Homo sapiens: one gene and its partners. The protein of the gene in region 1 purifies or fractionates together with the protein of each later gene. This does not show direct contact. Each region holds a gene or a part of one and is shown in the gene's direction. Other genes may lie near its edges.

Region 1 (7,459 bases):
AAACTCCTTTCGAACAGTACTCAGAATGATATTGCCCATTCTTTCTGCTAATCCTTTGCTTTGTATCTTTTGTCCATGCCTGTATGTATATAGCAGAGTAGGAAATTGGGAAAATACATAGTTTGGGCCTTTAAAAAGAAAATGCTGTAAGGGTTATTTTACAATCTATTTACTCAACACTGTGCCTTAGGGATCTTTTCTTGACAGTATATATAAATCTACCTTTTAAAAAGCTGCTGCATAGTGTTTTGTGTGATATACATATGACAATTTAGCCATTGCCTTTTTGTTTGTTTGTTTGTTTACCTGCTCTGGCTGGAGTGCTGTGTGGTGCAATTATGCTCACTGGAGCATCAACTTCCTGGGCTCAAGCAGTCCTCTTGCTTCAGCCTCCCAAGTAGCTGGGACTACAGGCTGCACCACCACACCCAGCTAATTTATTTTTTGAGTAGAGGTGAGTTCTCACTATGTTGCCCAGTCTGGTCTCAAACTCCTGAGCTCAAGTGATCCTCCCATTTCAGCCTCCCAAAGTGTTGAGATTACAGGCATGAGCCACGGCCCCTGGCTGTTGCCTCATTTTCTAAATCACAGATTTGTAGAGTGACTAATTTTTGCAAAACAGTGTTTTTAAAGGTTTTTAAAATTTAATATTATGATGTTAGGTATCATATTAGTGTGTCCAAAATAGCCACAAAGAAAGAGATGATACTGTTGAACCAGAAACTTGAAATCCTGATTTATCTGCTTCGAGGAACAAAATCAATTCCTCAAAACCTTATAAGACAAAATATATTTTAATGTCATAGTAGTTAGGAGGTATCAAACTCAGTTATAAATAGGGGGCTTTAATTCCCATAGTGATAGAACTTTTTAGGCACTTCAGGATTATAATACGGTAACAGTTTTCTTCCCTGCCACTCTGGGGTGCTCTCTGAAGCGGCATCTCCGGCAGAGAACTCCATAGTGTGTGATGAGCCTGCTGCTTGCTCAGTATTGGCATTTACCTCTTAATATACTGTCCTATGCCCATCTGGAGTATAAGCCTCCCAGAGGAGACTGGGCAGAGATTAACTTGGCAGTAAAGATTATCTGACAAGTCTAATATTTTATGTCTTTGTAATTCCCCATTTTCAAGTATATATCTCAATTAGTTTATCTTGATATGTGCTCAAAGATATAAACTATTGTCATCCCATGTTTATGCTATTACACATAACTTTTTATTTAAAGTTCTGGTCATAAAATTCTGGTTCAAACATTCTAGAATTCCCAGCTTCTATTTCTGGAGCTGTGACTCTCAGTCAGTCAATGCTTAGGCCATGCCTTTGAGGCACTAGGTATTGAAAGTCACCACTTCTTCATTATCTTAGGATTCTCAGTTCTTTCTTCAAAACTTATACTTTCAGGTTTTCTTAATTAACTGGTCATTCCATACATCTGTGTAAAATAATTTCTAGGAAAACTCCGAATCTCAAAACCTTTGTTTTATACTTACTACTTCATTTCCAGTAGATGGCACCAAACACCCTTTGAAGGTCTTCATTATACTAATCCCTAGTTGGTGTTGCTGGCTAATTGATAATTTCATCCACCACCAAGGAACGAACATGGTCTATTCTTCAGCTGATTCTCTAATTTTTATATAATGTAGTATTTTTGTTTGGAGTCTAAGCTAGACTTGTTGGCATTTAAATTATTTGCTGTTTCTGGCTCAGATTTCAACCTTTTTTCCCCCTTTTTAAGACAAAAATAAGTGTGACTTTCTGGTCAGGGTGATTGTAGAGGAAGGGTCATGATACTGAAATAGGACTTGGTTAAAATAAAGAGTTGAGAGTAAGAGACTAAAGACATATGCCAAATGTTTGTAATAAAATTAAAGAGAAAATATAAATATATACAAAATCCAAAATGTCAGGATAATGAAATCAAAGCATTTTTAGTATTATCACTTTGGGTACTTTAGTAGAATTGCACTCGTTTATGATTTTGAAGTTTGTTTTACAAATAACATCCAATTTAAAAATACTCTTTTAAAACTTAGATCCTTTTATAGTTCATAAACATAGTAATTAGGTGTTCCCATTGCATGTATGAGATGTGCCTCCCAAAGAGCTTGTTACAGCGTTAGTACATTACCTGTCTGATATGGAGAAAAAAAACTGTTATATTTCTACCTTCATTTCCAACTTTGTATTGTGCTTTGAAAACCTTTACCTTCAGTATGTGTATTTCATTAGTATTTTCATAAAGAATCAGTTTTTAGATCCAGTTAACCACTGAAACCAGAATATGCCTATATGTCAGGCATGATTTACTACATGTTTATTCTATTTATTGAGTTGATTTAATTTTAGTGGGTTTGTGGACATTAAAAAATACATGTTTAATATTTCCCACCATAATTACATTTACACCTTTGTCTTTCTTTTTCTTCAGTACTTGAGTTGTCAGTGTTTTGTGACTCAGTCTGGAAATCTGTTTAAACCACCTTGTCTTTATACAACTACCAACAGGAGGATTGGTAATTTGGGCTCTGGGTGAGACATACATAGGTTCAGTTTCCATGTCTGCAGCTGAATGCATGACAGGGAAAATCATTTAGCCTCCCTGGGCCTCAGTTTCTTCACGTGCAAAATGTAATTAACACAACCTACCTCATGGGGTTATATTGAGGATTAGAGATAATGTAGGTAGGATACCTACACATAGTAAGCTATTATATATTGGCAACAATAATAAACTTTTAAAAAAAGAAATATGTTCATGCTTTACTCATTTGTATTTTGGGGACTCAACCTACCAAGAACTTTATTTCTACTTTTAAAATTGGAGATGTCTGTCAGTACATTGGCAGTGTAGCTTGGTTTGCCAGATAGCTTTCATTTCAAAAATTTTAATAGGTTTAGGGACCGATCTTTAACCTTTTTAGTTCTGTATACGTAACATTCTATTAAGCATTTATATTGGTACCACCCCATGCGGAAACACACAATTTGCAGACGTCTTAAAGAGTATTCTTGGCCGGGTGCGGTGGCTCACGCCTGTAATCCCAGCACTTTGGGAGGCTGAGGTGGGTGGATCACCTGAGGTCAAGAGTTCGAGACCAGCCTGGCCAACATGGTGAAACCCCGTCTCTACTAAAAATACAAAAATTAGCCGGGCGTGGTGGTGGGCACCTGTAATCCCAGCTACTCAGAAGGTTGAGGCAGGAGAATCGCTTGAACCCGGGAGAAGGAGGTTGCAGTGAGCCGAGATCGCGCCATTGCACTCCAGCCTGGGCGACAAGAGCAAAACTCCCTTTCAAAACAAACAAACAAAAACAATAATCTTGTGAGTGTTTTCATCTAGAATTAAAAGGGAGGGGAAAACCCCAAAAGAGATTTAAGCAAAGAATCTTAGGGTTTAATGCCATTCTGTAGGTTCAGGAAGTCTCTGAGCTTTAAAAAGCCGCTCGCGTGAAAGTAATTAATTATTCCATCACTTCCCGGGGGTGGAGGGGGGTGCGGAAAAGGCGCATGAGCTCAATGCTGTATACTGCAGCCCGATTCCAGCTCTTTCTTGAGGGCAGAAAAAACGCCGAGCGGCGAGCATTTAACAACGGCCGGCTTTTCTTCTCAAGCCCCGCAGCAGCCACGTGGCGCCTGCCCTAGCTCCCGGCTCACCGGCCACTAGCCTGCACCGCTCTTCGGGAGGATTCGAGGCTGGGCCCTCGCCAGCCCGAGTTCCGCGAAGCCCAGAACCTCCAGGGCCGCGGCCACCAGACCGAGGGCTCCGGCCCCGAACCCAAGCGGGGCAGAGCGCCCAGGCGACACGAGGTGCCAGCCTTCCATTCGATGGACGCCTGGCAGGTCCCCGGAAGTTTTCCCCGGGGACAGGTCTTGGCAACAGGTCCGAGGCAAGGCCGGGTGGAGCAGAGCTCCGCAGCGGCTGGTGAATCAGCGCCGCCCAGCGCCGGACCGGCCCTCCCAGCCAATGCCAGACCCGGTGAGGAGCAGCCAGGCTGCTGACCATCAGCCACTTAGGGCTCGCCTGGCCTGGAGAAAGGTGACATCATCGTAGCTGGGAGGTTTCCGAAGGCTTCACCAATGGGAGACCGGCGAGGTGCTTGCCTTCTGCAGCTCTTGGCCAATACTAACAAAGCAAAAGGGGGCCCGGGTTGTTGGTATAGAACCAATGGGAAACAAGGAAGGAGCACGAGGCGGAGTTGCGAATCCTGTCACCAGTTGGAAAGAGGGGGTGGAGCCCGGGCCTTGTCAAGTGTGACCAACCAGCGAGAGGAGCGGACTTTGCGGGGTGGAGCCCTGAAGCCCTCTCCCAATCGCACAAGTGTAGGGGCGGGGCATTCTTTGGGGGGCCCAATGAGGAACGCGGCCGAAGCTGGCCTGTCAAGAGAAGGGGCTGGGGGCGGGGAGATGGTGAGTCGGGGATAAACACTCCGCGGCGGTGGCGGCTGCTGCTCTGCTCCGGGTTCTGTCACTGTGTCGGCGGTGCCCAGCTCACTGGCCCCCTCCCTCTCTTGTCGAGCGTGGTTGCCAGAGAGGCTCCCTCAGCCCTGCTCCGCGGGGTCCACAGCGGGCTCCACAGCGGGCTCCATAGCGGGCTCCACAGCGGTCCGGCGGCGGCAGCGAGCCCGTGGGCAGTGGGGGTTGGTCCCGTGGCTCCGGCCCCCGGTGCAGAATGGCGGCGGCGGTTCGGATGAACATCCAGATGCTGCTGGAGGCGGCCGACTATCTGGAGCGGCGGGAGAGAGGTGCACGGGGACGGGGAGGGGTCCACTCGAAACGAGGCCGGGGGTCCTGTGGGGCCGGCCTCAGGTCCGGGCGCCCAGCCGCTCCGGGGGTGGTTGGAGGCGGGGAGACCGCGAGCGCTCCCAACCCCTCTGGCTCTCCCCACGCGCGGTCCGAAGGGAAGCCGCCGCTGCCCCAAAGCAATGAATGGGGTGGAGAAGGGGCTGCCGCCCGCCGGGGTCCCGAACGCCGCCCCTTCCCCAGCCCTTCACGAGTGGGTGGCCGGGGCCCCCTCCGATAGCCTCCCTGGTTTACCTCACCCGGGCTGGTCCCGGCCGGCCCCCAGGTGGGCCCGGCGCCCCAGTCTCCTGGGCAGAGGAGCAGCGCCTCCCGGTCCCCGGCTCACGGTGCTTGCCCCGCACCTTCGCCTGAGCTGGTTCCACTTAACCCGCACCAACCTGCTGGATGTAGCCAGTGGGAAACCCAGGCTGCGTGAGCCTAGCCACTACTGTGTCTTTCTCAACAATGAGCAGCTGGAATCCTCCTTACACCTGCTCCGAATTGACGATATTCACACAATTTTTTTTTAAATCATTGTTCTCAGAATTCCACCTTACTCCATTTAATTATTTCCACAATATTCTTTTAAAGATAAATAAAGGAAAAAGGAAATACTGTAGAGAGGAGAGAGCATTAAATATTCTGGGCCCATTCATTAACTGGATCCTCCTGTTTTCTAGAAGCTGAACATGGTTATGCCTCCATGTTACCATACAATAACAAGGACAGAGATGCCTTAAAACGGAGGAACAAATCCAAAAAGAATAACAGCAGTAGCAGGTAATTTGGTAAATACTTCTTTCTGTCTTTTAGATTATATTGTAGGTGACACAAACTGCTGAATGTAAGTTTTCTGTTGTGATTATAACCCTATAAAATTACATTGTGGCCGTCATGATTCAGTAATGTACACATGGACTTAAGCCATTGCAGGAAGCTGTTTCTGTTTGGGTTGAGGGAACTGAAAAGAAAAATAGAAATGTTTTACATTTCTTTATGAACTTTATTCAAAATTTAATTTCACTTTTCTTCCCTTTTGGAACAAAAAAATCTGTGGAAGCTTCAAGTGAGATTAGCAATGGTGACAGTATTTTCCCTTCAGAAGTTGCAGATTCAGGGCAAGTTTTCTATAAGTCAAAATGCTGGACATTATCCATTTCTTTTACTTTTCATAGTAATGATTTTATAAACACATTAAAGTACCTGACTTGGCATAAGTGATAGGATCTCATACTTGACATGTAAATTAAATACAGTGGTTTGTTTGATACTCTAATTTGTCATCTCTATTTGTAATGGCAAAGAGGAATGATTGAGGTTAAAACCTACCTCTTTAGTGATAGAGGAATATATAATACCAAAATATTAATATGCTACAACTTTTCCATGTTAGCCTTATCGATTATCTTATACCGTAGTTCTTAAAAGCTGTGAATCTCACTGGAGATTTGGTTCATGGTCAGTTAAATCACATATTAAAGTCCTATGCATAGTTTCTGGTACATGCAAATAGTCCATCAATGTTGCTGCCCGTTTCCCCCCTTCTTTGCCCTTAAAATATAGTTGGCTAGGAAATTTGTTCTATTAGATCCCTTCAACTATACCTTTCCTGCCAGTAAATTAAAAGCATTGACCTTTTCGTCACTAGTTTAGAATCCTTATCCCTCCCTCACCCTCATGAATAACTCCTTGCAAGTATCTATTTGGATATCCTCTGTGGCTTAATACAGACCAGGAATTTCCCACTTAAACCTAAAAATCACTTGTTCTTGCTGCGTCTTCTGTACTTGGTTTACCTCTTTAGTATCGTTAGTGGAACCACAGGATGTGAGCAGCATTACTTGTGCCATGCCCTTGAATAAAAATGGCACTTGAAGGATCAACCTGGTAATTACCTGGTAGGTTTTGCTTGTCCTCCCACCTTAGCATTACCTGAAGGTGGTAGCCAGTAGTTTTGTGCATGGGTATGAAGGCACTTTAAGAAAGATGTTAATACTGACTTGTAATATGCAATGGTGTAAAACCAATTAAGCTGTGTTGCATTTTGTTACAATATTTTTTTAATTTTGTTTAGAAGAATTTTGAGGCCTTTCAGTTAATTTTTCTGGAAAAGCATCATCCATTTTTGCTTTTATTATTGTCCACTAATGATTTGAGAGGAATTGTCCAAGTTACTTATTGAGGCTTAATACCTTAACACTTTGTTTTTTTCCTTAGTTTCACAGGAAGGTTGTAGGGGATGTTCACTAGTGGGGATAAGAAAATGAGATGTTGAAGTGGCTTGGTCCCAAAAGGTGATTAGGAAAGAAAAATAATAGTAGTTAAGAATCTTAAGCCAAGAAATGGATTCTTTCTAGTATCTTCTCTTTAATAATCAGTACTATGCCAAAAAAAAAAAAATAAAGGCTACAAATCCTTCTGTTAATGGGTTGGTTTGCTTTCCATGGTTAGAGACGGGATTATCACAGTTGTCCATACACCTGACTGATAGTGAGTTAGTGTAATATATTCAGTGGTGTAAGGATTTCTGAGAGACCATGATTAAACCTAGAGGTAGCACCAGCCAAACGTGTGAGGCAAGAGCAGGCAGTTTTCTTTCAGTGTGATCATTTCCTTCATGACTCATTTGGAATAGCTCCTTTTCTGAGGAACAAGCAATCATAATGGAGAAA
Region 2 (6,889 bases), on another chromosome or scaffold:
CAAGTTTGGCTTTGGTAAGTGCTTTGGAGAATCTTCTCAGTCCATCTACTGAGCTGGCCATCACCAGTTGTTGTATAAAATCCACTTTTTCTCGCACATCACAATCTGACCAAGAAATGGTTTGTTGTTGCAAAAAATAAGGGATAAGGACACTTCAAAACAATGACTTTTTTTTTCGGTCAGTTCATGAGGCACCCACTTATCGAGCTTTTTCACTTTTTAATTTGCTTCAAATGCTGAAGGACTGTAGAATGGTCCACATTGAGTTCTTCGGCAACATCTCAAGTAGCCTTAAGAGGATCAGCTTTGCTGATTGCTCTTAACCGGTAGTTATCAACTTCTGGCGACCAGCCACTACGCTCCTGATTTTCAAGACTTTCCTTCCCTTTGCAAAATTTCTTGAAACTGCCAGGCACAGCGGCTCAAGCCTGTAATCCCAGCACTTTGGGAGGCCAAGGCGGGCGGATCACGAGGTCAGGAGTTCGAGACCAGCCTGGGCCAAGATGGTGAAACTCCATCTCTACTAAAAATACAAAAATTAGCTGAGCATGGTGGTGCGTGCCTGTAATCCCAGCTACTGGGGAGGCTGAGGCAGAATGGCTTGAACCCAGGAGGCAGAGGTTGCAGTGAGCCAAGATCATGCCACTGCACTCTAGCCTGAAAGAGCAAGATTCCATCTCAAACAACAACAACAAAAAAACTTCTTGAATCACCACTGCACTGTAAGTTAACAGTTCCTGAACCATATGCATTGCTGATATGGTGTCTCTGTTGTTTTACAACCCATTTTTAACTCAAAAACGAAAACTGCTCGAATTTGCTTTTTTGTCTAACATCATTTTCATTGTCTAAAATACACATGAAGGCTGGGCACGTGGCTCATGCCCGTAATCCCACCACTTTACGAGGCCGAGGCAGGCAGATCATGAGGTCAGGAGATCGAGACCACCATGGCTAACATGGTGAAGCCCCTTGGCTCTATTAAAAATACAAAAAATTAGCTGGTGTGGTGGCACGCGCCTGTAGTCCCAGCTACTCGGGAGGCTGAGGCAGAAGAATTGCTTGAACCTGGGAGGCAGAGGTTGTAGTGAGCCGAGATGGTGCCACTGACTTCAGCCTGGCGACAGAGCGTGACTCTGTCTCAAAAATAAAATAAAATAAACATGAAATAAACAGAGAGTAATAAGTCATTACCAAAAGAACAAAGCGAGAAATGCCCATTAAAATGATGTATAACATAACCACATTTATTTAACAACGTAGTCCAACATCAAATGGCAAATTCCAATAATGCAAAAACCACGATTACTTTTGCAACGACCTTCTTAGACACAATATTTTGCAAAACATGTACAAGGATATTCACTGACATATTACTGCCATTATAGAAAAATAAACACGTTACATAAATTATGATATATTTATCCCACAAAACACTATGAAGACATAAAAGATGCTTTACGATAAGATATTTCCAATATTCCCAATGTTTTCTATAAAGAATAGACGGTAATGAACAACACTAGAATATTTGGTAAAACAAAACCAACAAAAAAGACAAAGCCTTTTGTATAATATATAACTATAGTGTAAACCGTAACTACCTTTTGGAGGAGGGAAGACATTTTTGTATTCTTCTTTGGGCTTTTTAATAATTTCCAAATGTCCATGCATTATTTGGATTCAATAATAACAGTTTAAACTTTGATCGTAGAATTATGGATGCTTACCCCCTAGAAAATTCAGTAATATATTGTTTTATAAGGTCTTTTAAAAAACTGCTTCACTCCTACGAGATTGCGCCACTGCACTCCAGCCTCGATGACAGAGAGAGACTCTGTCTCCAAAAAAAAAAAAAAAAAAAAAAAAAAAGCCTCACTCCTAAACACTCCCATTTACAAGATCTTTTCTATATAAGAACTTTTTAAATAGGCGGGTGGGGGGGAGGAAATCACAAAAATACGCATAATGTTTTATAACAAAAACATGAGGTATATCAAAGTCCAGAAATGAGAACCACGTAAATGGGTAAACAAGTCCATAAGGATGTCCTAATTTTGGGATTTCATTCTAAAATATTACACTAGAAAGCTAATTATACAGACTCATTTGAATCTGACCAAACAAAACATCTTTTAACTACCCTTCCTCCCATTCTGGTATTTCTTTACTAATCCATAGAAAGTTTTTCCAGGTAGTCCCCCGCAATTCTAAGGATTTTTAGACTTTATGACTCACCTCAGTAATCACTGAGATGTTCTGTTTTCTTCAGCACAACTGCCAAAAAACCCAGTAATTGTTAAGTCACACAATCATTTTCTAGTTATGGGCGCCACCAATATAGCAGTAGGGTTTAAAACAGAGGTATTGAGGGTAACTATTAGGATCTATCCAGTGTGACTAGGTCACTCACTAGAAATGCCAACATGCATTTCACGTTTTTATGAATACTTTTGAGCAAAATTACTGTTACGAATAAAAAACTGATTCTGCTCGGCTGTTTTCTTACTGAGAAAATTTAGTCCACGTGGATTACTGACGATATGTCACATTTTAAAAATTACTCCATTCTATAAAACTAGTCAATTTTATACTCCAATTCCGCTATTTAAAAATGTGTGTTTCGTTTAACAGAATATAAGATGTTAACAGAAAAAGATCAACGTCTATCTTATCGGGGACGTCCTTTTGTCTAAGATGTTTTCAGTCCCTGCAAAACCACTGTTTGCTTTCAAAAAGTAGCATAAGCCTCGTGCAGAGTGACAGACCCTTGTCTAAGGTCACAGAAGAAGCGTCTGCGCTGGCAAGTAAATTCCTCAGCATCCAGAAAGCCAGCGCTTTCTCCAGTTTCCTCATAGCTTTATCCCGTGAGGAGCACGCGGAAACCTCTACCCATGCAGGATGTTTCTAAGAACCACTTCTTCCCTGTCTTAACTAAGAAGGCTCCCACAGCTGGTGCCAATCAGGTGGAGAACATGGCAAGTCCCCGAAATGCACTTCCAAAGACAGGAAAGATTGCAGTGGGACAGAACCCAGAAAATCTCTCACATTCTCGAAAACCCGAAAGAGAACCTCCAAGAAAGACGTTTGCCTCTCCTCCACCTCTTTATCTCGGCGGGAGAGGAAGCCTCGCCCCCATTCATCCCGCCCCTTCTCCCCACCCCGCCGCAGGGAGAAGTTTACCATGGCTGCCTGCGGCCCCTTCACTTCCGGTGCCGGTGCCGCTAGGGCTGCGCCATCCCCCCAGTCAATCGGACAACCATAGCCTCCAACTGACCTTTCTGACAGCTCTGAGACTCCTCCGGCCACGACTAGGTGCTGTCCTGGAGGAAACGGTGGAGGACGGCCGCACAAAAACCAATCTACCTGATGAAAACTCCGTTCCCTTCTCGCCAGAAACATAAAATGCGATGGAGCTACGGCCACCGCTGCCGAGACAAAATGGCGCCGACAAGCTGGTTTAGCGCAAGCGCCTTGGACAGACCCTGCCCCGCCCCCGTGCAAGCCCCTGGCTGCAATTCTGGGTTCCGTTTCCATGGGACACTCCGCCGCCAATCCTCGTGTCGAACTGCTCTTCCTGACCCCTCAATTCACCAATCAGTGCCCAGTCAAGCACATCCGGAGTCGTCTCTACCAATCATTTCTCAGGACTTGCTTACTCAATAACCAACTCTCCAATAAAGTTGGTTTTCGGAAAAAGCCAATCATAAGTGGAAGATGTCCTACCTGCTGTTTTTCTCACCAATCCATGAAGTTTCACAGCTACATCCAATGAGGACGGCAGGTAGCGAGGTCCTATCCGAAGCTCTTCGGCGTCATGAGCAGCCAATAGGAGTTCGTGTAGAAGCGAGTCTGCTCAACAGCTTGTTATTTGGTGGATTGTGGCAGTAAATCGGGGCGAGTGGGGAACCCGGCGCAGGAACTGCAGCCGCGGCTGGGAGTGGTGCTGCCCGGACGGGGGCCCACGGAGGTCAGAGGGGAGGAGGACTCTGGAGCTGACAGCGCGCACTTCACCCGCAGTTGGTAGGTGGGGAGAGGGGAATCCGGGGATACTGAATGGACGAAGTGGCAGTAGCAGCAGCTGCTGCTGCCCGAGGTCCCGGTGCAGTTGGAAGCTTTGGAGGTGGGGAGAGGGATGCTAGGCAAGTGGCACGGCGAGCGCAAGGGAAGGGGCCAGCCATTGACCAGCGGCAGCAACTGCAGGAACCGCCGCCGCAGTTGCAGCCGCCTCCTCGTCCGCTTCCTCGGGTTCCCGGGAAAATGGCTGTGGGGCTGGCCGCGCCGCTAAGTTTGCTTCCGCGCGGTGAAGAGCGGGCTGCTTGGGGGAGCCGTCCCCCAACTCCGCGGCGCGTCCACCTCTGCGGAGTCCGTGGCAGGACTCGAGGGGCTACGAGCTGATACCTCTCTGGGCTGTACAAAAAGTTGAGGCGGGCGCTGGGAGGAGGCAGCGGCTGCTGCGGTGCGGCTCCCCTCCCCTCCCACACCCTGTCCGGGCCACCTCCCCTCCTCCTCCCCTCCGCCCCCCGCCCCCTCCCCCACGCGGGTCCCCCGGGGCTCTGGCGGCTCCCGGCTGAAGGCCGCGGCCCCTGCCCCTTTGGGTGAAGGAGCGCTTCTCCTTTCTGACATGGTGCAGAGCGAAGGAAGGAGAGCAATGGCGCCGTGACACTCCGCTGCCGCCACCGCGGGCCCGGGGCGGGCCGAGGGGGCCGAGCGGCGGAGGCGGGGCGCGGGCCGAAGTCGGGGTATCCGGGGGACCGCGGAGCGGAGGCTCGGCGGTCGTCTCCGCGGGGGACCTGGGGAAGCCCGAAGGGAGCTCTGGCCTTTTCCGGAGCTATCTGTCCTGGAGCTCCGAGTTGAGCATTCCGGGTCAAAGTGGCCAGCGAGGCGGGGGCGCGGTGGGCCGCTGGCGAGCTCCGGGGCGGAACGGGCTGCCCTTTGGCGCTCGTGGGGTTCTCGCTGCCCCCTCAGCTCCTGCGTCCTGGCTGCCCTCGTAAGGGGTCTTGTCCCTTGGCTGGTGAGGATTCTGCCCCTCCCCGCTGGCGTTTGTTTACTTTCTTTCCCTTGGTCGCTCCCCGCAGTTGACTGATTATGTCTGTGCCTGTCTTTCCCCCTCCCCATAGTTCTAGCGACTGCGAAGATAGCTCGCTGAGCTGGAACCCCACAGATCACCAACAAAAATGAAGGTAAGTGGAGTCAACTCTGCCCCGATCCTCGCGCCCTGAACACTGCCAATCCTAAGGCTAGTGCCGTGGAATGTCATTTGTTTTGCTACTCAAAATTGATGTTCCTACTGATCAGCAGTTTCGGCATAGGAGGATGTGTTGAATGGGTGAAAAATGATCTGTGTGTCTAAATGCGGAGTTTAGGCCCTCTCTGTAGCAGTACTTTGGAAAGGCTGGTGCAGCCTTTCAATTGTTGTCCATTCGGATAGTATTTTTAAACACTTCCTGTGTTGGCAGCAACCTTTGCAGAAGTAAAGCTTTTGTCCTGCTTTGGTTCTTTGGGGGATTTTTTGTAAATTTTTTTTCTTCCCGTGTGCCAATGCGATTTTCTAAAAGAAAGAATACGTGGATTAAGTAATGAAGGTATCATTTCTTCTGTGTGTAAAATGAACTTATGTGGCTAAAATATTTGAAGTTGAAGTATAATAATAGTTTTAGTTAAATCTTTCCAATAAGTATTTTAAAACATATACTAAAAAGATACATATTCTACTGAGGATGACTGCAAATATCAGTATGTGGATGGTTAAAGGGAAAGGATCTCATATAGCGTTCTTGAATGCTGTGGCCATTGAATGTTTCAGGTCAGATTTTTGTTTGCCAAAAGCATTCCTATTCAATTTGTATTTTTTGTAAATGCACTTACTTTAAAAGGTACCCAATTCCTGTCTTATTTACTGTTTCAGCATATTAAGCTCTGAAATATAGCATTTTCCCAAACTTTCTCGTGGTTTTCTATTTTCTCGAAGTAAATGACATATTTAACCTTCTTTAATATTACTTGGGAAAACTTATTAGAAAACAAAAAATCATTTTCTACTTCAAAACGTATCTCCAAAGTGTACACTGTTAACTTTGCACTTAACAATGTTAAGTTGAACTTGTATGGATACACTTTAACTTCCGGAAAAAAAAAAAAAAGGTAAAATGACAGATTGAGATAGCAATCATCCTGTTACTGTAAAAATTAAAATGAGTGGTAGAGTGACATTTCTTACATCTTTCTATGTATCATTCTGGTCGTGTCCATTTGCTGAAAGTAGATGTTTCTTAGTAACGCTTATTTTTTTATACTAAGAAGATTAGTGTGGTAAACTAGGTATACCTACAAGTCTGGAGCCATCAGTTCATATCTGCATTCATCGGCTGAATTCAGACTTAAAACCTTTCAAGTGCAGCTTTTAGCAAATGAATTTTCCAAATGATACTTTCCTTATGAAAAGATGTTACCTTTATGTGGCTATGTCAATAAACAATTATGTATTGTTAGTGTTAATATTAGTAGCAATATTTCTTTTAATTTGAAAAATTTCAGGAAGCTATAAATGAATAACTTAGTTTTATGATATGTGTAATATGAAATATTTTTTCTGTTTTTTTCTTATCTTTCTGCTTATATAATAGTAGAATTTTTGAAAAATTTTGTATCGAGACAAAACATTATTAATCACTGATAATTTTGAATTACAACTTTAAAACATTTTATCATATCAGGACATCAGTCTATAAAATGAAAGGTTGCTAATCAAGTATTTAGGGTATTTTTCAAATTTTCAATGATATTAATAAGCAAGTCATTTTAATATTCTTAATGCTTCAAACACAACCTTTTAATGAGACTTGAGGTTGGAGTAGGGAGGCATAGTAATGACATTCACAGTTTTATG
Region 3 (7,024 bases), on another chromosome or scaffold:
GAAGGAAAAAAAAAAACTAGAGCCTTTGCTACCACCCTCCTGCCCCAACCCCACTCCCAAAGGCCACTGAGCTCTGAAATTTCTGAAAACCAGTATGTACTTGAAAATGGTTAAGGAGAAAATGATTATTTATCTTGTAAGAGAGTCTAGCAGAGAACCTTTTTAAATAACAACACCAGAAATTCAATTCAGGCTGTTTAACTCATTTTATATAGACTTTGGCAGTGTTCTGTGATCTGTTAAAATACTAATATACCTCCAGTTGACATATTTCTGCTTTTTTTTTCCTGGAGAAAAGTGGAAGTTGAGAATAGTATAAAGGAAAATGCTGGAGTAGGAAAAGACATGTACTGGGGGGGCAGAAGGCCTGGGTGACCTTGGCCAGGTCATTTCCTCACTCTGGATGGCTTCATTTTACCCATTTAGAAAACGGATTGGGGTCAATGGGATTGCACTAGTGATTGCTAAGTTCTCTTACAGCTAGGATTCCGTTATTCTATTGTCCTGATCTGAAATCTCCCAGCCAAAGCTTTAGGAAGCCACCTATTCTCCCTGTTCTCCTATGAAGTTTGTTACTGTGAACTTGAGGAGCAGTTGATCTGAGTGGACTCGCCAGTCTAGCTAACATGGAGGGCTAGCTTCCTCTCAGGGATGCAGAGTGTGCTTTGTTGTGCTTTCTTCCTGGAGAAAAGCATGTCCAGTAGTATATACATCAGCTAGGTGGGATTCTTTGGGACAGTGGCATGTGCTGTGTTTGAAAGTCCTTTGACAGAGTTGAATCTGACAAAGCTATCCCAGTTTGTAACCATGTTAAGTGGTGGCTTTCATTAGCCTTAAGCCACTTTTAGATATAGGAGACTTCCTATATTGGTACATCAACATTTTTCGAGTACCTCCTGTCTGCAAGACACCATCACAGTATAAACTTAAAAGTACTTATGACTCACTAATCCAGCCACATGAAAGTGATCATTCATCTGAATAAATAAATAAACAGTTTTCATTATTTTCTCCATGAAAAGGTCTGAATTAATTGATGCGGATTTCCTGCCAGCTTACTTTTATCTTTAAGGATTTAAGGAATAAACTCAAATTCAGAAGTCTCTGCAGAACATTTGTGCAACAGCTGTTTCAGTATCAACAACCCCAAGTCATTTGCTGGGCATTCAGTTTCTGTAAAGTTTTTCAGTGGTTCCTCCAGCCAGCCTTGGAGGATTCTTCATGTCTTAGCTGTTGCTGCCACCTTCACTTACCAGTGTGCCTCCAGCCTGTATTAGAAAATCTGTAGTATCCACCTTCTTGTATGTGGTTCTACCTTGTAAGAACTTCCACATCTTTTTCCACTTTTCTTTGTGGATCAGATGTGAGATAATGCAAGAATTATAAATTGACACATAGAAACAAAGTTTTTCAAAGAGTTATTATCCTACAATAGTAGCTATTGTAATTGTAAAAATAGAGTGTCCCAAATACCGTTGCAACAGTCCCTTGTGTCCTGCTTTCCTCCTCCCCAGGACAGTACATTCCAGTCGACTATAAGTTTATGACTCCTACAGGTCTTCTAAAAATGTCACATCACTTCCTGCTTCCTTGAGGGACTCTGTCTTGTCGGAAGGAAAGTCTAAGCTGTTCTCATGCCCACCCCCCTGATGCCTCACTTTTTCATTATGCTCCTACATGGGCAGCCATCATCACCCAACTGACACTGTACCCTGGGCCTCCTCACTCTTTCTGTCATCCTCCATTGGAAACTCTAAAGTCTTGGCACTCCTACCCATCTGGAATGCTTCCTGTCTGCCTAAAGTCCTCCCTTTTAGTCAGGGCCCTTCACCCTGAGCATCTCTGTTGCAGGGATCTCTTCCTTTGCTGAATCTGTACCATTTACTGTCTTCACCATTCACTGGAAGTTTGGTGTATGATACGCTGCCAAGTGTGATGTTAGCATTCTCTTTGTGTTCTGCAACTCAGTAGTGAGCTTCTGGGAATGATGGCCTACATCTTGTCTTCCATCTATCTCTCCAATGCCCTGCAATGGAAGGAAGCCCCGCAATTCGACAGATACCTATTGCTGTCTCCAAGGAATTGGCCAACTCTGACTTTGATTTTTGTCTCCATCAGGTAAGGCACCTATATATCTGTGATTTTCACAAAAATTTCATCCAGAGTGTCCGAAATAAAAGGAAGAGGAAGACAAGTGACGATGGCGGAGATTCTCCCGAGCACGACACTGACATTCCTGAGGTAAAGGTCAAAGAAACCAGTTGCGGAAGCTGGAAGAATGGATTCTAATCTGATTCTCACCTCTGGCCTGGTCTGCTTTTTGTGTTAAGAAGTAATTTTAGTCCTTTTGTTTTGCTGTGGATTATTTGAAAAGTGAATTATAGTAATATGGAATCTGAGAGCTAAAAGCTTGGACACCCACTGGTCAGACTGCCCCATCATTTTACAGACAGGCACAGAGAGCCGAGGTCATGTATATAGTTTGGAGGCTCTAGTCTAGGGCCCTTTCCAGTAGACCACACTGCTTTTCTGCAAGACGCCCCTGACGAATGCGTAAATACAACCACAGTGTCACTTTTTTTTAAACCTTGTTTATGCCTTTAGAGAGTGTATAATGGTTTGGGAGAAGTCTTTTCCCCAAAAAATGAAGGTGTAAGTCATCAGTTCATACCAGCTCTGATTTTCTCTCACTGATTTCTTGACATCTAGTCCAGGCTGTTCCCAAGGATCCATTTCAAAGTTGACTAAACTGGACCCGGTTTTCTCAACTCTAGCACTGTTGACATTTGGGGTCAGCTAATTTTTGTTGTGGGGACTGTCCTCTGCATTGTAGGATATTTAACAGCATGCCTCAGCAGCATCCCCTCGTGAGATTCTACCCATCACCACCCTGAGTCATGACAATCAAAACGTGTCTCCAGACATTGCCACACCTCCTTTACAAGACAAAATCGTCCTGTGTTGAGAACCACTGCGCTAGACCATGAGACCTAGGCTTCTCAAACTGGAAGGCTGCCTTCCCTTCAGGTGCCCGTGTCTATTAAGTGAGGCTTCAGGAAGGAATATTGGATTTTCTTTCTACTAAATTGTTTTCACTCAAGACTCAGCAAGAGAAGAACCGTTTATAGTGTACATTGAATATTTGACACATGAATATTTCATAAGGCAACCGCCTGTTAGCACTCAGAGTGAAAATGACTGTGTAGGAATAGAAAGAGTAGGCGGGCCTTTGTCTGCAGATGTGGAGGAAACCGTTGAAAATCTGGCCCTTTCCCTCTGCCCCTCCCTGTGTCCCCTTTTCCAATGTTGGTTTACAGAATCTTGCTTTTGCCTTTAACGTTATTGTTATTTTACAAAGAAATGGACGTATTCGATTTCTAAGTGGTTTTCACCAAAAAAAAAAAAAAAAAGGTTTTGAGGAATGTTTTGAAAAAGAATGAAGGACTTTGGCCCCTCATATTGATCATTCATTTTGTTTTTAAGTGCTCTCCACCTGCCTGAAGCAAGAACAGCTCTTTTAGAGGCAGGTAAAGGCAGCCCAACTTTATGGGCCTTCAATTTTTCATGACTATGCAGCTTTCCTCTCTTCCTTTGTTAGAAACAAAAAGGGGGGGTCCCTTCCCCTCTGTTATCCAGTCATCTGCAAAGACCCCAGCCCTAACCTGCTGGATTGCACATTCACTACAGTAACTTTTGAACTTTCTCTGGAGGGAGGTTAAGGATTCTAATACCAGAAGGCTGGGCCTAGCAAAGAGCTATTTGAGGATAACAGCCCTCCTTTGTGCTCCTCTATCCGGTCGCTGCCTCGTTCTGGCCTATCATCCTCCAGGATGTCTCTGGTTTTTGCCTTTGCTCTCCATCTTTGGTGTCCCTTCTAGCATCACTGCCCCTCCAAAGCTCAGCCTCTTCATCTCATTCTGATTGTTGCTATAGCATCTCCCTCCGTATCCCCCCATCAGTCTTCCCAACAACCACCACCAGACCCATCCTGCGCCATCGCCCTCCACCCTCTGTGATAGCTCCTTCTGTTTTTCTGGATGTGCTACCATCCATTCTCACCTTTTAAATTCATCACAGTTGCCTGTGACCCCCTTGCCCATCTGTGCCTCTCCCAGCTCTCTGTGCTGTGATCTTTTCCCCTATTCCCTACCGTTTCTCAGTGCTTTATCAGACCCTGCTCCTCCTTAGCTTAAGCTTTACCTTTTCCACCAGTTTTGTGAGATCAGCCCACCCCAGCCAGAACTGTTTTTCTACTGTTATTTTTGCCCTCCTAGCCAGTTACTAGTCCTCAATAGACCATTTCTAAGACCTCTTTTGAAGCCCTCCCCATCCTCACCCCTACCTTAGTGTAGTGCTAGGCACATAGTGGGCTCTTGGTGAGTCCTGGGTGGTCAGGTGATGGATAACATTTTTCTCCTCTTCTCCCTAGGTTGATCTGTTCCAGCTGCAGGTGAACACCCTACGACGTTATAAACGACACTACAAGTTGCAGACCAGACCAGGCTTCAATAAGGCCCAGTTAGCAGAAGTAGGTAGACAAAATTGCCCTCTAAAGAGAGCCAGCATTGTGCTGCTTCTGATGGTTACCCTGATTCTCCCTTACCTTGTGTGTCTGCTAATTGTAATTTCCTCCAGAGTTCTGGAAGCAACTCTGTATTCCTCTTTGGCAATTTAGAACCCCACAGCTTTAGACCTGCAAAGGCCTCAGTTCCAGAAAAGAAACCATGGCACAGAAAGAGGAAAGGATTTGCTTAAAATCACACAGCAAGTTGATAGCAGAATTGAGCCTGGGATCTCATGACTCCAGATTCTAAGTCCTGAGTGTTCATTTGTTTGAATCTTTTTTGGAAGATTCCTCTTTTTGTTTTTTTGGAGACAAGATTTTGCTTTATCACCCAGGCTAGAGTGCAGTGGCTCAGTCTGGGCTGACTGCAGCCCCAACCTCCCAGCTTCAAGTGATCCTTCCCACCTCAGCCTCCAGAGTAGCTAGGACCACAGGTGCACACCCCTATGCACAGCTAATTTTATTTTTATAGAGATGCAGCCTCACTATGTTGCTCAAGTGATTCTCTTTGGCTCAAGCCATCCTTCCACCTCAGCCTCCCAAAGTGCTGAGATTACAGGCGTGAGCCACTGTGCCTGGCTTAGCAAAATGCTTTTTAGATATGATCATTTTGTGTGTCAGATTAATCATTTCAAAACCTTGATGTTCTACAGGAGCTATTTTTTTTTCCTTGATTTCTCCTACTCTGGTGTTGGTAATGACAGTATTTTAATGAATGGCACCCAAGAAAGTTTTCTCCTGCCCTGAGTTATTAACACAGTTTGGATTACGGGGAAATGCTCCACTGGCCATTTTTAAAATACATGAACTGCCTGGCTTGATAATTCTGTCTTTGTCATTTCTGCAGGTATTTTCTAATCCCTCTTTTCTTAATATATTTTTCTGCCTATTACAGAAAAGTTGGAAAATGGAGAAAAGAAAAATATAATTCTATCATCCAGAGATAACCACTCTTTATGTCTAGTTCTCTGTCTTTTTTTATCTGTTTCAGCCACCTTGATCCATTGAGATTTCCTGAAAGGCTTCCAGCCTGTTTCATTTTTGGTTTTTCCTTTAGAGGTTTCTTGCTCGACCGTCACTTTTTCTTAAACAACTCCTTCACCAGTGTCCAGATGACACACAGGAGGTCAGAAGCCTCTCCTACTTTAAAATAACATCACCCATTTGCCAGTGTTCTCCCTGGTGGAAGGGAAAGAATGAGGTGGGGCAAGAGGAGACCTGCATTCTCATTACTTATGGAATGAAGTATTAGGAGCATTAGTAAATGATGCATTTTCCTTCAAACCTGATATGTCTTTCAGGAGGCAGTTATGCACTACTTAGAAGAATTTTGGGGTTCAGATGCCTCTGTTCAATTTGTTCAATTGGCTGTTCATTTAACACAATTTTTTTTTTTTTTTAAAGACAGAGTCTTGCTCTATCTCCCAGGCTGGAGTGCATTGCTATGATCTCAGCTCACCACAGCCTCCACCTCCCGGGTTCAAGTGATTCTTCTCCATGTTTCCCGAGTGGCTGGGATTACAGGTGCCTGTCACCACACCCGGCTAATCTTTGTATTTTTAGTAGAGGCTGGGTTTCACCATGTTGGCCAGGCTGGTCTCGGACTCCTGACTTCAGGTGATCTGCCTGCCTTGGCCTCCCAAAGTGCTAGGATTACAGGTGTGAGCCACCATCCCCAGCCTAACCCAATTTTTATTTGTTTTTGAGACAAGGTCTTGCTCTGTCTCCTAGGCTGGGGTGCAGTCACAGCTCACTGCAGCTTCAACCTCCTGGGCTCAAGTGATCCTCCCACCTCAGCCTCCTGAGTAGCTGGGACCACAGGTGCATGCTACGACACCTGGCTAATTTTTTGGTAGAGATGAGTTCTCCACTGTGTTGCCTAGGCTGGTCTCGAACTCCTGGCCTCAACTAATCCTCCCACCTTAACCTCCCAAAGCATTGGGATTATAGGTGTGAGCCACCACGCCTGCCCCACAATTTTTTAAAGACACATTTCTTCCCACTTTCAAGGCCTGAGAGGTTTGGTAGCAGCTGGCCAACCAGAGCAGTCCCAGTCTCTCCTCCATGAGTATGACTGTGAAATCATGCCATGACAGGTGGTTGGCTGCCACTGAAATAGAACTGCACCTTGGAAGAGTTGTAGGTTAAAAAGCCACTTTTGGATCCTGGAAATTAAACCACCTACATCCCTGGGGAGGAAGGGCAAAGGGCACTCTGAGTTCCGCACATGGCAGGAAGTTCTTCAGCATTTGTCATTCCCGCCACAGCATGCAAACAACTCCATTCGCTTCTTTGTACAATGTAGAATTTGCGGTGTGATTTGTGCATGGTTTAAGGAACTTTGGTATTTTCCCCCCACATAGACTGTGAGTCGACACTTCAGGAACATACCTGTGAATGAAAAAGAGACCCTTGCCTACTTCATCTACATGGTGAAGAGTAACAAGAGTAGACTGGACC
Region 4 (7,553 bases), on another chromosome or scaffold:
CAACTCTAATTGCATAATCTCCTATTATTCTGTCTGCCTTAAAATTAAACTTAATGATGACAGGAATTTTAGAGCTGGAAGAGAATTTAAAGTTAACACACTGCAAACTTCTTATTTTACAACGGATCAGAGATTATGTGGTTTGCCAAATTTTATCAGTTGGTTACTAGGAGAACAAGGCTAGAACCCATGCCTCCTCCTTTCCACCTTTCCTGTTTTTCCTGGAACAGCAGAAACAGAAAGCAACCACTAGAGGCGCACTGTATGCCAGTGGTTGCACACAGATTTTTATGTCAGACTACCCAAGTTCAAATCTTAGATCTGTTACGTAGTAGCTATGTGACTTTGGCCAAGTACTCTAACTGCTCTGTGCCTCGGTTTTTTCATCTATAAAATGGAGGGCATAATAGTATCGACTTCATAGGATTGTTATGAGGATTCAGTGAATTAATGTACTTAAAGCACATAACACACTTGGCACATTGAGTGACCAGAAATCTAATTGTTACGATTTAGCACACACTCTGATAGCTGCTGATATTTAGAGGCCAGGGATTTTACCCACAGCTGTTTTTGTTTGATCTGAAGTTTAAAGAACACAAACAAAACAAAACAAAAAACATCACTTGAGATAATGTTTATAGTTCTAGATATTTCACATAGAGATCCAAATTTCCGGTTTCTCTTTGAAATCAGAAGGTCTGACATCGGTAGGCCAAAATTCTCAGGTAGTAACAATTGGCTGGGGCCAAATGCAGCTGCCCCCTTTAATCCGTACCACTCATGTAAAGCTTACATCTTTTAACTTGACCTGCCTGACTACTGCATGCCTTTGCACTTGCATTTCAGCTTAAGACAACCTCTGCTCTCAAGGAACTCATAATCCAATAGGTGAGACGCATTTGCTAAACAGTTTACAATATATTGTCATAGGAACAAGTATAAACTTGCAAATTTCAAAATACAGCAGTCAACTGAAGGAACAGGAGTGCCCTGAATGGTAGAGGTGCTGACGGTGATATGTGTTGTCTAAAAAGTGGCTTTGAAAAAGAAAAGGAGAGGAACAGGGTTGTAAAGGAAATAGAATGTGCAAAGACACTGAAATGGGAAACAGCTTGTGTGTTTAGAAACTGTAAGGAGTTCAATTTTGGACAATACTGTAAAATGAGAAAGGGAGAAGTAGGCTGACACTAAATATAATACACATCCCTTATTTTGTATTTTACTCTGTAAGAGATAGGTAGCACTTAAAAGGTTTTCTGTCATTAAATTACAAATCTAGGTTGGGTACAGTGGCTCACATCTGGGAATCTCAGTGCTTTTGGGAGGCTTAGGTGGACAGATTGCTTGAGACTAGAGTTCGAGACCAGCCTGGGCTAGACCCTGTCACTAAAAAAAAACGAAAATATTAGCTGGGCATGGTGGCATGTGCCTGTGGTCTCAGGTGTTTGGAAGGCTGAGGCGAGATGATCGCTTGTGCCCAGAAGTTTGAGGTTGCTATTGCACTCCAGCTTGGGCGATAGAACGAGATCTTGTCTCTAAATAGATAGATAATTAAATAAAATTGCAAATTTAACTGCATATTTTTGGACCTTGTCTTTGAGAATGCAATGCTATACAATCCACAATATTCTATGAACTTTTTTTTTTTTCTCTTTGAGACAGGAGACAGGGTCTCACTCTGTCACCCAGGCTGGAGTGCAGTGGTGCAATGTCGGCTCACTGCAATCTTGACCTCTCAAGTTCAAGCAATTCTCTCACCTCAGCCTCTGGAGATTGGGTTTCACCATATTGGCCAGGCTGGTCTTGAACTCCTGACCTCAAGTGATCCACTCGCCTCGGCCTCCTAAAGTGTGGGGACTACAGGCGTTAGCCACCCTGCCGGCCTGTACTATCTTTCAATAGCAAATTGCCACTTCAAGAAGAAGAAACCCTGTCGTTATAAGGGGTAAAATATAGTTTTAAGATTGGTCTGCAAATGAAGTTTCCTTATCCGTAAAATGGGAATAACAATGGCACCTAACTCAGGGCTATTAAATTGAGAATTAAACTCACTAAACCCATGTAAAGGGCTTACCAAGATACCTGATACAGAGGATAAATGGTCACTTAATGAGTTATGATACCTATTGAGGCTTCCTTGTCTATGTACCCTTTATTTATTTATTTATTTATTTATTTATTTTTATTGATCATTCTTGGGTGTTTCTCGCAGAGGGGGATTTGGCAGGGTCATAGGACAATAGTGGAGGGAAGGTCAGCAGATAAACAAGTGAACAAAGGTCTCTGGTTTTCCTAGGCAGAGGACCCTGCGGCCTTCCGCAGTGTTTGTGTCCCTGGGTACCTGAGATTAGGGAGTGGTGATGACTCTTAACGAGCATGCTGCCTTCAAGCATCTGTTTAACAAAGCACATCTTGCACCGACCTTAATCCATTTAACCCTGAGTGGACACAGCACATGTTTCAGAGAGCACAGGGTTGGGGGTAAGGTCACAGATCAACAGGATCCCAAGGCAGAAGAAGTTTTCTTAGTACAGAACAAAATGACAAGTCTCCCATGTCTACTTCTTTCTACACAGACACGGCAACCATCCGATTTCTCAATCTTTTCCCCACCTTTCCCGCCTTTCTATTCCACAAAGCCGCCATTGTCATCCTGGCCCGTTCTCAATGAGCTGTTGGGCACACCTCCCAGACGGGGTGGTGGCCGGGCAGAGGGGCTCCTCACTTCCCAGTAGGGGCGGCCGGGCAGAGGCGCCCCTCACCTCCCGGGCGGGGCGGCTGGCCGGGCAGGGGGCTGACCCCCAACCTCCCTCCCAGAAGGGGCGGCTGGCCGGGCGGGGCGCTGACCCCCCCACCTCCCTCCCGGAAGGGGCGGCTGGCCGGGCGGGGCGCTGACCCCCCCACCTCCCTCCCGTCCGGGAGGCTGGCCTGGCGGGGGCTGACCCCCACCTCCCTCCCGGACGGGGTGGCTGCCGGGCGGAGACGCTCTTCACTTCCCAGACGGGGTGGCTGCCGGACGGAGGGGCTCCTCACTTCTCAGACGGGGCGGCTGCCGGGCGGAGGGGCTCCTCACTTCTCAGACGGGGCGGTTGCCGGGCAGAGGGTCTCCTCACTTCTCAGACGGGGTGGCCGGGCAGAGACGCTCCTCACCTCCCAGACGGGGTCGCGGCTGGGCAGAGGCGCTCCTCACATCCCAGACGGGGCGGCGGGGCAGAGGTGCTCCCCACATCCCAGACGATGGGCTGCCAGGCAGAGACGCTCCTCACTTCCTAGATGGGATGGCGGCCGGGCAGAGACGCTCCTCACTTTCCAGACTGGGCAGCCAGGTAGAGGGGCTCCTCACATCCCAGACGATGGGCGGCCAGGCAGAGACGCTCCTCACTTCCCAGACGGGGTGGCGGCCGGGCAGAGGCTGCAATCTCGGCTCTTTGGGAGGCCAAGGCAGGCGGCTGGGAGGTGGTTGTAGCGAGCCGAGATCACGCCACTGCACTCCAGCCTGGGCACCATTGAGCACTGAGTGAACGAGACTCCGTCTGCAATCCCGGCACCTCGGGAGGTCGGGGCTGGCGGATCATTCGCGGTTAGGAGCTGGAGACCAGCCCGGCCAACACAGCGAAACCGTCTCCACCAAAAAAATACGAAAACCAGTCAGGCGTGGCGGCACGCGCCTGCAATCGCAGGCACTCGGCAGGCTGAGGCAGGAGAATCAGGCAGGGAGGTTGCAGTGAGCCGAGATGGCAGCAGTACAGTCCAGCTTCGGCTCGGCATCAGTGGGAGACCGTGGAAAGAGAGGGAGAGGGAGACCGTGGAGAGGGCGAGGGCGAGGGCGAGGGCGAGGGAGAGGGAGAGGGAGCTATGTACCCTTTTTTTGAGAAAGTACATCTGGTTAAGTATGTATTTTTCATTGAAAACTAAAGTTAAATCAGGACTGATGGCATTTTCCGACTGCATTTGGTAAAAAATAAATGCCAAAAATATTAGATTGAAAATGCCAAGATAAAACTTCCTTACCTTCTGTATTGTAAAAGTTTCAAGAATAATTTAAAGATTTTTGCACAACACAGAAAGTGCAAGTTATCGTCTATAGTTAATAATTAAATAAAACAGTTTATTAATGGTAGGTAATAAAGGTGCTTAGTAAAACAGATGGTTCTCCAGTTCCCCAGGCTCAATGAGCAGGCAAAGATCCTTTTAGGCAAAAGACATTTTCACATCTAACAGTAACATCTCTGATGGTCAGGCAGGTCAAACAATCACTTGGCGGGAAATAGATAAATACAGACTAAATTCGCACAATCTGTTTCTGTTTAGTTTATAAACTGCGATCCAGAGTGTCAGCTTTCGTGCCTTGTGGGACTTGAAGTCCAGAAGGAAGAAGTGATCAGGGCTGCCGAGGGATGGAAGCGTGCAGCCCCTGCAGGTCTGAGACCTACGAACTACAACTCCCGGCAAGCATCGGAAGGCCGCGTCGTAATTGCGGGCAACCAATCGTACCAGAGCAGGGCAAGCCCCCGCCCTCTGGCTCGGTGGAAGGCCTCCGCCAATGGCAGAGCTCCCATCGCAGAGCCTGCGGGTTAGGTTGTGAGGCCCGGGCCGGGGGCGGGGAGGAGCCAAGGGGGCGAGCAAGCTCGGTGGCTGGGTGGGTTGGGGCGTTCCGCGCGCCCTTCATTGAAGCGGCGGTGGCCGGGCTGGGCGCCGGTAGTGGAAAGCGACGGCGCGGCTGGAAAATGCCAGTCCATTCCCGAGGGGATAAGAAGGAGACCAACCATCACGATGAGATGGAGGTGGACTACGCCGAAAATGAGGGGAGCAGCTCCGAGGACGAGGACACTGAGAGCTCGTCGGTCTCCGAGGATGGAGATAGCTCAGGTGCGCGACCCACTGCTGGGACCCTGAGTCCCCGCGCCCAGCGCGCGACAGGCCGCTCTCCGCACGCCAGGCGGCTGCGTCCTGCTGGGAAAGCGGGGCGGGGACAGAGGGAAGGGGCGGAGACTGGCTCTGGGCCCTGGGCTGCACCCTGACCGGTCGCTGGGCGCTGTCTGGCTCCTGATGGGTCCCGGCGGCGGGGCGGGGCGGGCCTGGGCTTGTCCAGCTCCCAAACGCGGCGTGGTCCTGCCCCCGGTGGTGCTCTGGAGCGACCAGCCCAGGCGGACAACTTCCCGCAGCAGACAAACTGGAAATGCCTCCTCTCCCCAGCCCACCGACCTCTTTCCCTATTTTCACCTTTGCAACCCTCACTTCTCAGCGCAAGTGAGTTGCCGGGACAGAGGGTCGGCTTAGTAATTAACCTCAGTTTGCAAGTCAACTTGCCGGTCAGCACTTTTACATCAGTGTCTTTTCGGGGGCTAACTTGAGAGCGGTCCCGTTCAGTAGCTCCCTGAAGTTTGCAAGACTGAGAGGAAGGGACCAACATTCGGGCTCATTTTGGATCTTCATATGCTTATAAATTGGCTGAGTTTTGGCAGCGTTGAAAATTCTCCAAGTCTTTTCTTCCCTTCAGTTTTTTCTAACTTTGGGCTGTTTTAAATTATTTTGGGTGGGGGAGGAGGGCAGATTAACACTACAAATAAATTTTGCAAACTTTTAGGAATGGTTATTCTAAAGTGAAATGGAATTTGTGATTACCGGGATTATTTTCTTTCGATTCAAATGATGGAGATGAGACTGACTTCTTTGTCTTGGCCTGATTTTGGTCATGTAAAGGAAGCATTGATGATAGGTTGATGACAGCCTAGTATCACCCAGATGCCCTCTTTTCATGTTTCCCTTGCAAAGCAAATCTCCATGGAAGGATATAATTTCAATCAGTAAATCAGCCATCCAAAAATATTTATGAGTGACTTCTTTGTGCAGCACTGGACAGTACTCAATATGAGGGATAAATAGTTATTATCTGGGCTCACTTAAAAAGCTATCATAAGTCACCACTTGATTAAATTGCCAAATGAATGCTTAACTAAATGTTGCTGTAGGAATTCAGAGGCAGAGGAAATCGTTTCAATATTGGGTGGTCACAAAGCCTAGCTGAAGAAGGTGGGATTACCTTAATTATCTTGAAGAATGAGTAGAATTTGGTTTGGGGTGGTGGGTATCCCTGCAGGGAGAGGGATGTAAGAAAAAGTACAAGGGCCAGAGTTTGGGGCTTATTCAAAAGAGCGTGAAAACCTTGGGAGAAGGAGTTGAGCTCGGAAAAGAACAGGAAAGTATAGATGTGAGTGATTTCAAAGAAAGCACAAAACAGGATTGATGAATGCAAGTTTAGGATTGAAGGTAAGAGAAAAACCAAGATACAAGGAGAGTGGCGGTAGCATCAACAGAAATAGAAAAGTGAAAGATTTGAGATGAAGGTGAAAGAAAAGAGTATTTCAGACATGTTGCTTTTTTTTTTCTTTTCTCTCTTTGAGATGGAGTCTCGCTCTGTTGCCCAGGCTGGAGTGTAATGGCGTGATCTTGGCTCACTGCAACCTCCGCCTCCTGGGTTCAAGCAATTCTCCTGCCTTAGCCTCCCGAGTAGCTGTGATTATAGGCGGGTGCCACCACACCAAGCTAATTTTTTGTATTTTTAGTAGAGACAGGGTTTCTCCATGTTGTCCAGGCTGGTCTCGAACTCCTGACCTCGTGATCCACCCACTTCAACCTCCCAATGTGCTGGGATTACAGGCATGAGCTACCATTCCCAGCCTTTTTTTTTTTTTTTTTTTGAGAAGGAGTTTTGCTCTTGGCACCCAGGCTGGAGTGCAATGGCATCATCTTGGCTCACTGCAACCTCCACCTCCAGGGTACAAGCAATTCTCCTGCCTCAGCCTCCCGAGTAGCTGGGATTACAGGCATGCGCCGCCACGCTCAGATAATTTTTGTGTTTCACCATGTTGGCCAGGATGGTCTTGAACTCCTGACCTCAGGTGATCTGCCTGCCTCGGCCTCCCCAAGTGTTAGGATTATAGGTGTGAGCCACCGTGCCTGGCCGACGTGTTGCTTTTGGAGTGATGGCAGTATGCTTAAGATTGCCCAACTGACAAATGGAAATGTGACATTGGAACCTGCCCGATATGGGAAGGGGAGAATAATTTGTAAGTCATCTGCCTTGCCATGAAAGTAGGTGAGATTTCAAAAGCGGGGAATATAGAGAAAGGAGACTGTATGGGAATATATTTCTTTTTTTTTTTTCTTTTTTTTGAGACAGTCTTGCTCTGTCACCCAGGCTGGAGTGCAGTGGCACGATCTTGGCTCGCTGCAACCTCTGCCTCCTGGATTAGATTCTCCAGCCTCAGCCTCCTGAGTAGCTGGGATTACAGGCATCCTCCAACACACCCGGCTAATTTTTGTGTTTTTAGTAGAGATGGGGTTTTGCCACGTTGGCCAGGCTGGTCTTGAACTCCTGACTTCAAGTGATCCACCCGACTCTGCCTCCCAAAGTGCTGGGATTACAGGCGGGAGCCACTGCACCTGGCCTGTTGGTGAATATGTTTCTTAGATCTATAAAGTATTTTGTCTTCAGATGTTCTTGCATTTATGATAGGAGCAAGGATCTCATAAAATTCTATTTGTTA

What was found.
Region 2: the proteins of MXD1 (region 1) and ARID4A purify together in Homo sapiens (affinity purification with mass spectrometry; 3 studies listed by BioGRID and IntAct, with this or other methods). This does not show direct contact.
Region 3: the proteins of MXD1 (region 1) and SAP30L purify together in Homo sapiens (affinity purification with mass spectrometry; 3 studies listed by BioGRID and IntAct, with this or other methods). This does not show direct contact.
Region 4: the proteins of MXD1 (region 1) and BRMS1L purify together in Homo sapiens (affinity purification with mass spectrometry; 3 studies listed by BioGRID and IntAct, with this or other methods). This does not show direct contact.

The regions. Positions count from the first base shown.
Region 1 is NC_000002.12:69,910,654-69,918,112, forward strand, and holds the start of MXD1 (max dimerization protein 1), read left to right. Parts: upstream 1-4,455; 5' UTR 4,456-4,677; coding exon 4,678-4,750; intron 4,751-5,467; coding exon 5,468-5,567; intron 5,568-7,459. UniProt on the Homo sapiens protein: Component of a transcriptional repressor complex together with MAX. In complex with MAX binds to the core DNA sequence 5'-CAC[GA]TG-3'. Antagonizes MYC transcriptional activity by competing with MYC for MAX binding.
Region 2 is NC_000014.9:58,294,678-58,301,566, forward strand, and holds the start of ARID4A (AT-rich interactive domain-containing protein 4A), read left to right. Parts: upstream 1-3,877; 5' UTR 3,878-4,023; intron 4,024-4,513; exon of another isoform or gene 4,514-5,014; intron 5,015-5,120; 5' UTR 5,121-5,177; coding exon 5,178-5,183; intron 5,184-6,889.
Region 3 is NC_000005.10:154,448,973-154,455,996, forward strand, and holds part of SAP30L (histone deacetylase complex subunit SAP30L), read left to right. Parts: intron 1-2,118; coding exon 2,119-2,241; intron 2,242-3,483; coding exon of another isoform or gene 3,484-3,501; exon of another isoform or gene 3,502-3,527; intron 3,528-4,429; coding exon 4,430-4,528; intron 4,529-6,927; coding exon 6,928-7,024.
Region 4 is NC_000014.9:35,821,787-35,829,339, forward strand, and holds the start of BRMS1L (breast cancer metastasis-suppressor 1-like protein), read left to right. Parts: upstream 1-4,551; 5' UTR 4,552-4,730; coding exon 4,731-4,872; intron 4,873-5,088; exon of another isoform or gene 5,089-5,253; intron 5,254-7,553. UniProt on the Homo sapiens protein: Involved in the histone deacetylase (HDAC1)-dependent transcriptional repression activity. When overexpressed in lung cancer cell line that lacks p53/TP53 expression, inhibits cell growth.